Linked DNA regions of Homo sapiens: regions 2 and 3 are each reported to be linked to region 1. Evidence: microRNA targets listed by miRTarBase, many of them from high-throughput screens and not tested one by one. Region 1 holds a microRNA gene; each other region holds the end of a gene's coding sequence.
What was found. Region 1 holds the annotated microRNA hsa-miR-134-3p (CCUGUGGGCCACCUAGUCACCAA, at 1,650-1,672, shown strand). A microRNA usually pairs through its seed, bases 2 to 8, with sites in the 3' UTR of a target mRNA and lowers its output. Matches are read on the target gene's strand: a 7mer-m8 pairs with bases 2 to 8, a 7mer-A1 pairs with bases 2 to 7 and ends in A, and an 8mer does both.

Region 2: miRTarBase lists UPP2 as a target of hsa-miR-134-3p. Seed matches in the 3' UTR shown: 7mer-A1 at 848-854.
Region 3: the mRNA of FASTK is a reported target of hsa-miR-134-3p. The part of its 3' UTR that is shown has no 7-base or 8-base seed match.

What each region holds. Positions count from the first base shown.
Region 1 is chr14:101,053,083-101,056,210 of GRCh38, forward strand. MIR134 (microRNA 134) reads left to right here and starts at 1,605; the gene lies at 1,605-1,677. MIR382 (microRNA 382) reads left to right here and starts at 1,224; the gene lies at 1,224-1,299. MIR668 (microRNA 668) reads left to right here and starts at 2,176; the gene lies at 2,176-2,241. MIR485 (microRNA 485) reads left to right here and starts at 2,337; the gene lies at 2,337-2,409.
Region 2 is chr2:158,134,578-158,137,577 of GRCh38, forward strand. UPP2 (uridine phosphorylase 2) reads left to right here. Exons shown (of 7, transcript NM_173355.4): 7 at 171-1,577. The coding sequence ends at 313. Among named protein-coding and RNA genes, the nearest start is that of CCDC148-AS1, 31 kb to the right of the region's middle.
Region 3 is chr7:151,073,942-151,076,941 of GRCh38, forward strand. FASTK (Fas activated serine/threonine kinase) reads right to left here. Exons shown (of 10, transcript NM_006712.5): 9 at 2,972-3,000; 10 at 2,683-2,891. The coding sequence ends at 2,784. It overlaps SLC4A2 (solute carrier family 4 member 2), which reads left to right. Exons shown (of 23, transcript NM_003040.4): 17 at 98-352; 18 at 458-547; 19 at 734-900; 20 at 1,314-1,567; 21 at 1,665-1,834; 22 at 2,072-2,245; 23 at 2,346-2,582. The coding sequence ends at 2,426. Among named protein-coding and RNA genes, the nearest start is that of FASTK, 5.4 kb to the right of the region's middle. RefSeq lists enhancers at 1,305-2,282, 2,283-3,000.

The DNA.
Region 1 (3,128 bases):
TGTCCTGCCCATGGCCATAATGGCTATTGAGAGGGTTGGTGACTTTGGCCACCATGATTTTGTTTCGATAAAGTTCTCTCTTTTTAAAAAAATCAGATTCTTTTGTTTATAGCATAACTACATGGTTCATGAGTTGATCAAATAACAAGGAATGACTTGGTCATTCCATAAATAGTGATGGAGTGCACACTGTGTTCTAGGTGATTCTGGACCTTAGCAGAGAGCAGTGAATGAAATCAAGTTCTTGCTCATGTGGACTTTACATTCTGGTGGAAGAGACGGATGAGAACACATGAATTAGGAAGCGTAATTTTGTCCACTGCTAGGTTTTATGGGGAAAGGGAAAGCGGGTTACAGTGACAGAAAGAGGTAAAAGCAGGTGGACCTTTGTGTTAAATACAGGGGTCTGGAAAGCTCTCTCTGAGGATGTGGGTGGGAATGGAGTGGGGTGGACCAGAGGAAGGTCTGGGGTAGGAGCATTTCAGGAGGAGGGCAAGGCCCATGGAAAGCCCCCTGGCATCTTTAAGAAAAAGCAAGAAGGCCAGTGGGATTGAACCGAGCTGCTGGGAGTCGCTGGGTCTGAGCTGGGAGAGGCAGGACTCCAGGTTTTATTCTGAGTGAGATGGGGGATTTGGAAGGGTTGTGAGCAGGGGGGATGCGTGGTCTGTGTTGGAAAGATCACTCTGACCACAAGGGCATTGATAGAGAATCTACCCAGGGCAGTGATGGGGAACCTACCAGGAGCCTGGCGTGCCTGAGCTGGGCAGTTTCTCTAGGGGCACCTGCAGTGGCAAAAGGGGGCCCCCTCTGGACCTCCCTAGTTCAGTGGGCCCTGCGGGAGCCTGGCTGGCACCTTGATGTGCTTGATGGATAACTCAGTGTGCTCTGTTGAGAAGTCCAAGGCCCTGTTCAGAAACCCTGGGGTCTACACACTGCGGAGTGCTCCTGGCGTGTGACAAGTGGCTTCCCTCTTCTTATTTCTAAACCTTGTGCGTGTGGATTCAGGACCACAATTTCAACTCCAGGGAAGGGGGACTGTGCCAGCACCACTCCAAGGGAGGTGAGTGAAGGGTTGCCCAAACTCCAGTGTGTTCCTAGGACACCCGTAAGCTGCCTCACTAATGCTCGGTGTCCACTCTGTCCACAGGATGGTGGTTGGCAGCCACTCCCCTTGGAGAAGTGGAAGGGGACTCCTTGTCTGTCTTGTCTCTGCTTTTCTGTGGTACTTGAAGAGAAGTTGTTCGTGGTGGATTCGCTTTACTTATGACGAATCATTCACGGACAACACTTTTTTCAGTACCAAATGCTACCTCTAAGGACTTCCTGGACACAATGGCAGCTTCAGGAAAGATAGTCTTTGTGTCAACCATGTGGAAAAGCCAAGAATGGATGGCGGGCCATGGACAATGCGCTGACCTAGCTGTAAGTCACCTGGCCCGATAATCCGAGCCTCCCATGCACCTATAGGAGGTCTTCCCATGGGTCTCACCAACTCTGGGGAATCAGCTGTGGTTCTGTCACCAGCGTCACCTCACAAGACTTTGAAGAGAGGCTCCCTGGGCCCCAGGCCGACTTCCAGAAGAGATGTTGGTGTCAGCACCGTCCAGGGTGTGTGACTGGTTGACCAGAGGGGCATGCACTGTGTTCACCCTGTGGGCCACCTAGTCACCAACCCTCAGCATCACTCCCACTCCAGGAAGACTTTCCAGAGCTCCCACCAACTCTGGGGAAGCGGCCATGGACTTGCTGTGACTGCTTGGTGGACTGCGATGACACGTGCTCTTGGGGGTGTATGTTTACTTAAAATGCAATGAGTCAGCCTTGGCAGCCCCTTCACCACTGTGACAGCCTCCTTGAAGTGTTGACTTCCGATGTGGGACGCCATGTTGTCTTCTGTTGAGGGACCTGATGTGGGCCAGCTTTTCTCCTGGGTGTGTGACTGAATCCTTCTTCCCAGAGCATGTGCTGCCTTTGTTAGGTCTGTCACGTCGTCCTCTAATACCCAGCATCCTGTCTCTCCCTAGGAGGCTCCATGGAGATAATGCGGCTTTGGGAAGCGGCCATGATTCTCCTGTCAGGGACCAGTGAGCTACGCAAAAGCTCCCTGTCTTGTCTGGAAGGACGAACTGCATCCTTGCTGCTGGGGAGAAGGCAGTGCCCTCAGCACTCCCTTAAGGTAAGTGCGCCTCGGGTGAGCATGCACTTAATGTGGGTGTATGTCACTCGGCTCGGCCCACTACCCAATACTATCCCACCCATTCCTAACAGGACTCCCGAGAAGGGCGGCCACCTCTGCCAGAGAGGCAATGGATTTCTCACCAGTGTTCATGTGTGGTACTTGGAGAGAGGCTGGCCGTGATGAATTCGATTCATCAAAGCGAGTCATACACGGCTCTCCTCTCTTTTAGTGTCAAATTCTGCCTCGGAGGGCTTCCTGAGCCAGTGCTGCTTCCAAGGTAGGTTTCTGGATGGCTGACCCCATGGCAAGCATTTTCCTGAGGATGCATGTAACTGACCTACTAACTTTAGAGTCCAAGCTGACCCTAAAACAACTTCCTGGGGCACTACCAACTTTAGGAAAATCGAGAGAGGTTGTTGGGATGCCCTAATTTTTTAAAAGTTAAGATTGAAATACACATGGCTGACTTCTTTTTTTATTCCTATCAAATTCAACCTTGGAGTTGAATCTTGGGCATCTAGAAGCATCTTTTATTAGTCAGCCGTCGGGATACAGAAGAAAACAGGAACAGGACTCTGTGCGACCCCTGGTTTACTAACCCACAGCAGCCTTACACCCTCCAGAGAATTCCTGTAAGGGAATCCCAGGTTTACCAAGGAGGCAGTGCTTAGCCTGCTTTTGCACACACATTTGTGTGTGGTTTGCTTCATATTTAATGACTCCTGTGCCACTGACATCCTTGCATTATTAAATGTTGCCTGCATGGCCAGCTGAGCACAAGAAGTGGTATTTCTGTGCACACTAATCCTGGCTTGGTGAACCTGGGGTTGGCCGGAGAGCATGGGTTTGAGCCACCTGGTCCACTCATCCTCAGGGTCCCATCCACCCTCAGAGGCCACTCCCAAGCTGCCCAGGCTGTGCAGAAGATGCAGGAATGCTGCGAGCAGTG
Region 2 (3,000 bases), not on the chromosome of region 1:
CCACAAAAATATTGAAGACCAGAAGGTTCAGTAGGTTGCATCTACATTACAACAACAACAACAAAAATACACAAAAGTACATGTGCTAGGGATGCTGGTGTGTTTGGCTAATGCTTCTATAGAAAAGATGAACCCATTCATTCCATCAGTTGTGCTAATTGCTCTTCTAGCTGCTGTGGTCTGTGTGACACTTCTCGACAGACTCGACTGTGATCAGATCAACTTGCCTCATGATGTCCTGGTGGAGTACCAGCAACGGCCTCAGCTCCTAATCTCCAACTTCATCAGACGGCGGCTTGGACTTTGTGACTAGACGTCCTAACTGGGCAGCCCAACCCTCCCCTGCAAGTTTGTAGCTCAAGTTGTAATGTGAAAGTCATATTTTATTTGTGGCATTTTTATATAGTTCTCATCCACATGCTAAATGGAAAGACTTTATGAAATCCTTCTCTCTTAAAAAGGAATTTATTGTAAAAGAATACTCACACTAAATTAAATTCAAATTTCATTTTAGAATAAGTTAACTAAATCAGTCTAATAATTAAAATTTTAAAACTCCTGGATTATGACATTTGGAGTTTCATATGCAGCATTAATTAAGCTCACATCAAAATAGACCAGCCATTTGCACATAGTTACCAGTCACTCTGTTTCTGAAACCAATCCAGAAATTCATGTTAGAACATTGTCAGGCACTTCTAGGTATTGGACAAGTGACAGAAACTGATCATCCATATTCAAAATATTTACAGAAAAAAGTGTCAGTGAAATGTAGGTCTATATGGAAAAGTTACCATTAGGAAAATATGGCCATACTGCTTTTTTACCCCTGCACTATTTCAGTGCACCACAGAATAGGATTCGAGATTTACATATGCCTGTTTGTGATTTTATCTCAGAATATAACAACTCTGGATTACATTTTCCTCTCAACTGAAAACCCTCAGTAATGCAAAGAAAGGCCTTCCTTTTTCTTCAGAATCACAAGTGACTAAATTGCCTTCTAGCCATTTTTTCTTGTAAAAAAAGTGTTTTGAGGAGGCTGTATTTTTTATTCCATTTCAATATTAACCAAATAGGCTGAGAAATTCATAGCAATTGAATTAAGACTTGAGTTCAAGATGTTAAAGGAATCCTTTTGTATGACTTGTCCAGACCGGCCTATTGCCCTACCCGTTTGATTCTCTGGGAGGCATGGTGCTCCTCCTGGCTGCACATGCTCTCTGTGAACTGATCGCATCTTGGGTTCTTCTCAATTTGACATACTTGGGAGTCGGAATGACTGGATGGGGGATGGGTAGAGGATGACTGGCACACTTGTATAGTATGTAATGTTGTGTACATATTATTTATATGGTTGTGGCTCAAATAAAGTTTAATTCCAACACAGTACAGATTATTTGGATCCCAGAGCCATTGTCACACATGACCGAATGGAGGCTTGGGGCAGGAAATAGGTCCTAGGCCGGTTGAGTCTGAATTGGCCTGCTCCTGGGTGGGGAATGTCTTTCTCTTTCAAGCAATGACAATAAACAAGAGGTATTTATCATCACCAATAAACAATCCCCCAAGAGGTACATTGGTTTGTGAACTTCTTTTTGGCACTAGAGACACTTTAAGTGCCATTTTTAGGGTATCTCAATAATTGACCATCAAATTCAAAGATCAGAGCTAAAAGCAAGCTAGAATAGCATTGCCGTCATTTTCTGATGGGATTTTTACTTTGTTTCATATTTTTTTAGACCATGTAGTGAAAACCACCTCAGAGAGGCTTCAGTTTGAACTTTTATCTGCCTGCTCCTGGACAATCTTTTTTTTTTTTTTTTTACACGGAGAAGGAGAGGCTATGAGAGGGAGAAGAATGAAATAATTACAGTTAATCTTCTCTTCAACTCCTGCAAGGAGTGTGTGCGCACAGGTGCATGCATGCATGCATTTATGTCTGTGTCTTCCTCACTGGTATTTTCTATCTCAGTAAACCATATCACTTGCACAAGCCAGAAACCTGGGAAACCCCTGTGATGATTCTTTCTCCTTAATTTCCACAGCCAGTCAATCACTAAGTCTTATTAATTGATCCTCCTAAATATTTCCCCAGTCTGTTCATTTCCTTCCATCTTTTTGGCACCCATCCTAGTCCAGGCCACCATGATCTCTCCTCCAGGTCACTGAGGAAGCCTCACTCCTGATCACCCTGCCTCCATTCTTGAAGTTTGATTGGGTTATTTTCCTGCTTCAAAGCCTTCACATTGGTCTTAGAATGAAGACCAAAGCCCTCTGTGCAGCTTAGGCATTCCTGACTGGGCCCAGCTTGGTAGCCCAGCTCACCTCACCCACTTCTTCCCCTTGTGTCTGCCCTCCAGGCACATCACCCTTGGTCCTTCAGTCTTACCCAAGGCACAAATTCACAAAGGCACAATCCCTTGGGAAGGACTGCCAACAGATCCATCCAATGGGGGTGCTTAGCTGCGGGGACAAGTGGGACTGAGATCCACCCTGTCCAGCTAGCTGTGAGACCTGGACAGGGTGAATCTCAGTCCACCCTGAGCCACAGTGACTGAGAGGGGCCTTTTCCTGATTTATACAATGGTGTTATATGGGATAGTGGGAACTCTTAGTGCCAATGTCCCTTCCCATTTCAGAGCCTTTTGCTGTCTACTCTCCCTGAAGGGCCCTCGCTTAACTCATGCTCATGGTTTAAATCTCAACTCAGAGATCCCTTCCCTTAGAAAGTCTTTCTAATCCTCAAACCAGATTCCTTCCATGCTCACCTGTAGTCCCCCTCCAGAGCCCCCTCGACTACTTCTTCAAAGTATGCAGCTTGCAACTATGTCATGATTGGGGTCATTATTTAATTAATGCCTACTGTCTACACTATAAGGTTCTGGAGAACAAAGACTGCACATATTTTATTTGCTTCTATCGCTTCAAGCACCTAAAACAGTACCAGACACATACTAGGCACTCAATAAATACTTGTCAAGTGAAGAATGAATCCTT
Region 3 (3,000 bases), not on the chromosome of region 1:
TTTCCCCTGCCCCACCCCTTCCACCCGACACTCACTGAGCCCCAGGAATCTTTTCTGCAGTCCAGCTGATGGAGGCCGTGTGGCCTCCTCTCCCCAGATCTTCCAGGAGCACCCCCTGCATGGCTGCTCAGCCTCCAACAGCTCAGAGGTGGACGGCGGTGAGAACATGACATGGGCCGGGGCAAGACCCACGCTGGGGCCGGGCAACAGGAGCTTGGCTGGGCAGTCTGGGCAGGGGAAGCCCCGGGGCCAGCCCAACACGGCCCTGCTGTCGCTGGTGCTCATGGCCGGCACCTTCTTCATCGCCTTCTTCCTGCGCAAATTCAAGAACAGCCGGTTCTTTCCTGGCCGGGTGCGTGGGCTTAAAGGCCAAGAGGGGGTTAGGGGCAGGAAGGGGGGTGGCAGGAAGTCAGCGGCTGTGGTGGCAGGACTCTGAGCGCTGTGCCTGCCCACTCAGATCCGGCGGGTGATTGGGGACTTTGGGGTGCCCATCGCCATCCTCATCATGGTGCTTGTGGATTACAGTATTGAGGACACCTATACCCAGGTAAGGTGCTGCCCACAGCAGGCAAGTGCTGCTGCCTCTGCCACCCCGGGTCTAGGTGTTCCCCTCCAGCCTCCAAACCCAGCCTGTCCTTAAGCTTAAGCCTGTCCTTAAGATGCCATCCCCTTTCCATGGCATGCCCTCCACATTCACCTTAACCCTTGTCCCTACACTGTGTCTGCCCTGCAGAAGCTGAGCGTTCCCAGTGGATTCTCGGTGACTGCCCCAGAAAAGAGGGGCTGGGTCATCAACCCCCTGGGAGAGAAGAGCCCCTTCCCTGTGTGGATGATGGTTGCCAGCCTGCTGCCCGCCATCCTGGTCTTCATTCTCATCTTCATGGAGACACAGATCACCACGTGAGTGGTCCTAGCCAAAGGGGTGTGAGAGGCCAGAGCCCCAGGCCAGGCTGGGGAACTCAGCATGGAACCTCCAGCCACACTGGGCAATCCCAGGGACCTCAGGGAACCTTGGATGCCCAGATGGCCACAGTTTATTCTGTAGACAGCAGAAAAACCCCGATGTTTGCTGGGACAGGAACAGCACGTGGAGGGGCAGGCCACCCTGGCAGTGCTAGCTGGGAGCTGTCATGGACGATAAGGGCTGGGGGCCCAGGTTTTGCTCTGTAACGGAATTTGAATCCTGACGGAATGGACAGGGACCGCCAGGTTCCAAAGCCAGATGGAGGGACTGGCTGGGCATTCTGGAAAGACCCTGTGGTCTGCGGAGCTGAGTCCAGCCTGGGCCTCAGCAGCACCCCTCCCGCTCTCAGGCTCATCATCTCCAAGAAGGAGCGCATGCTGCAGAAGGGCTCCGGCTTCCACCTGGACCTGCTGCTCATCGTGGCCATGGGCGGCATCTGTGCCCTCTTTGGCCTGCCCTGGTTGGCTGCTGCCACTGTCCGCTCTGTCACTCACGCCAACGCGCTCACTGTCATGAGCAAGGCTGTGGCACCTGGGGACAAGCCCAAGATTCAGGAAGTCAAGGAGCAGCGGGTGACGGGGCTGCTGGTTGCCCTGCTTGTGGGTACGTTGCCTCTTGCCTTTCCCTTCCCAGTGGATTCCCCAGGGCTACTGGGGCCAGGGGACCCCGGGGCCAACTCTTTCTCCTGCGCCTCCCGTAGGCCTCTCCATAGTTATCGGGGATCTGCTCCGGCAGATCCCCCTGGCCGTGCTCTTTGGAATTTTCCTGTACATGGGAGTCACCTCCCTTAACGGGATCCAGTTCTATGAGCGGCTGCATCTGCTGCTCATGCCGCCCAAACACCACCCAGATGTCACTTACGTCAAGAAGGTGAGCCCCCCAGCTCCCCACCGGAAGGGGTGTGCCTCTGGCCATCCTGGTCTACTTGGGTCACTCTCCAGCTGCCCCCTCCCATCTGCCCAGTTCAGCCAGCCCCCACCTCCTCTCTGTACCAACCCAGCTCTGGCACCTAGGAATGTTCTTCCATCCCCGCCTCCGAAGAAGAGAGAGGCTCTTCCCAGCAGCAGGCTAGGGAGGAAGCTGGGCTCACCTGTCTCCGCCCCCCAGGTCCGGACCCTCCGTATGCACCTGTTCACGGCCCTGCAGCTGCTCTGCCTGGCCCTGCTCTGGGCCGTCATGTCCACAGCTGCCTCCCTGGCCTTCCCCTTCATCCTCATCCTCACAGTGCCGCTCCGCATGGTGGTGCTCACCCGTATCTTCACCGACCGAGAGATGAAATGTGTAAGCCCTCCCGTCTGCCTCCCCCGGTTCCTCTTGCCTCCCTGTGGATCTGGAAAGGCCCCCCCACTTCCCTTCTTGACCGCCACCTCCCCACACACAGCTGGATGCTAACGAGGCAGAGCCGGTGTTTGATGAGCGGGAGGGTGTGGACGAGTACAATGAGATGCCCATGCCTGTGTAGCCGCCACCGAGGGACAGCCGAGGGACCGATGGACGAGGGGACAGGCTGGTGGGATGGGGTTCCCCCTCCCATGCCCCTCCCTCCTTTTTATTTAAGTGAATAATTTAAAGTCTTCTCCTCCCCCACTGCCCCTGCAGTAAAGTGCTTTGGCCCCCACCTATCTGTGGCCTTTTGTCTTTGTATGGGGGGCGGGGCATGAATGGAAGAGGCGGGGGACTCAGCTCTGCTCCCCGTCCCAAAACTGAGATTCACAACGGGGAAGGAAAGGAACTTTAATGAGAAATCAAAACACAGGGAACCAAAGTGCAAATCATCCACCCCCCATGGGGGGGCCATCCTGAACCCCACATCAACCCCTCAGCCCCCTTCAGGCCCCCAGCGCAGGCCCAGGGCCTGGAGCTTCTGCCTCAGGTAGCTCTTGAGCTGGGGCAGGCCTCTCTGGGACTCCAGTTCCTCGAAGGGTAGCTGTGGGGAGAGGAGAGGGCGGCAGGTTACCCGCAGGCTGGGAGTGAGGATGCGCCACGGGCCAGGCCAGGGCCACTCACCGGCAGGAGCTGGTAGCCCATCAGGCCTA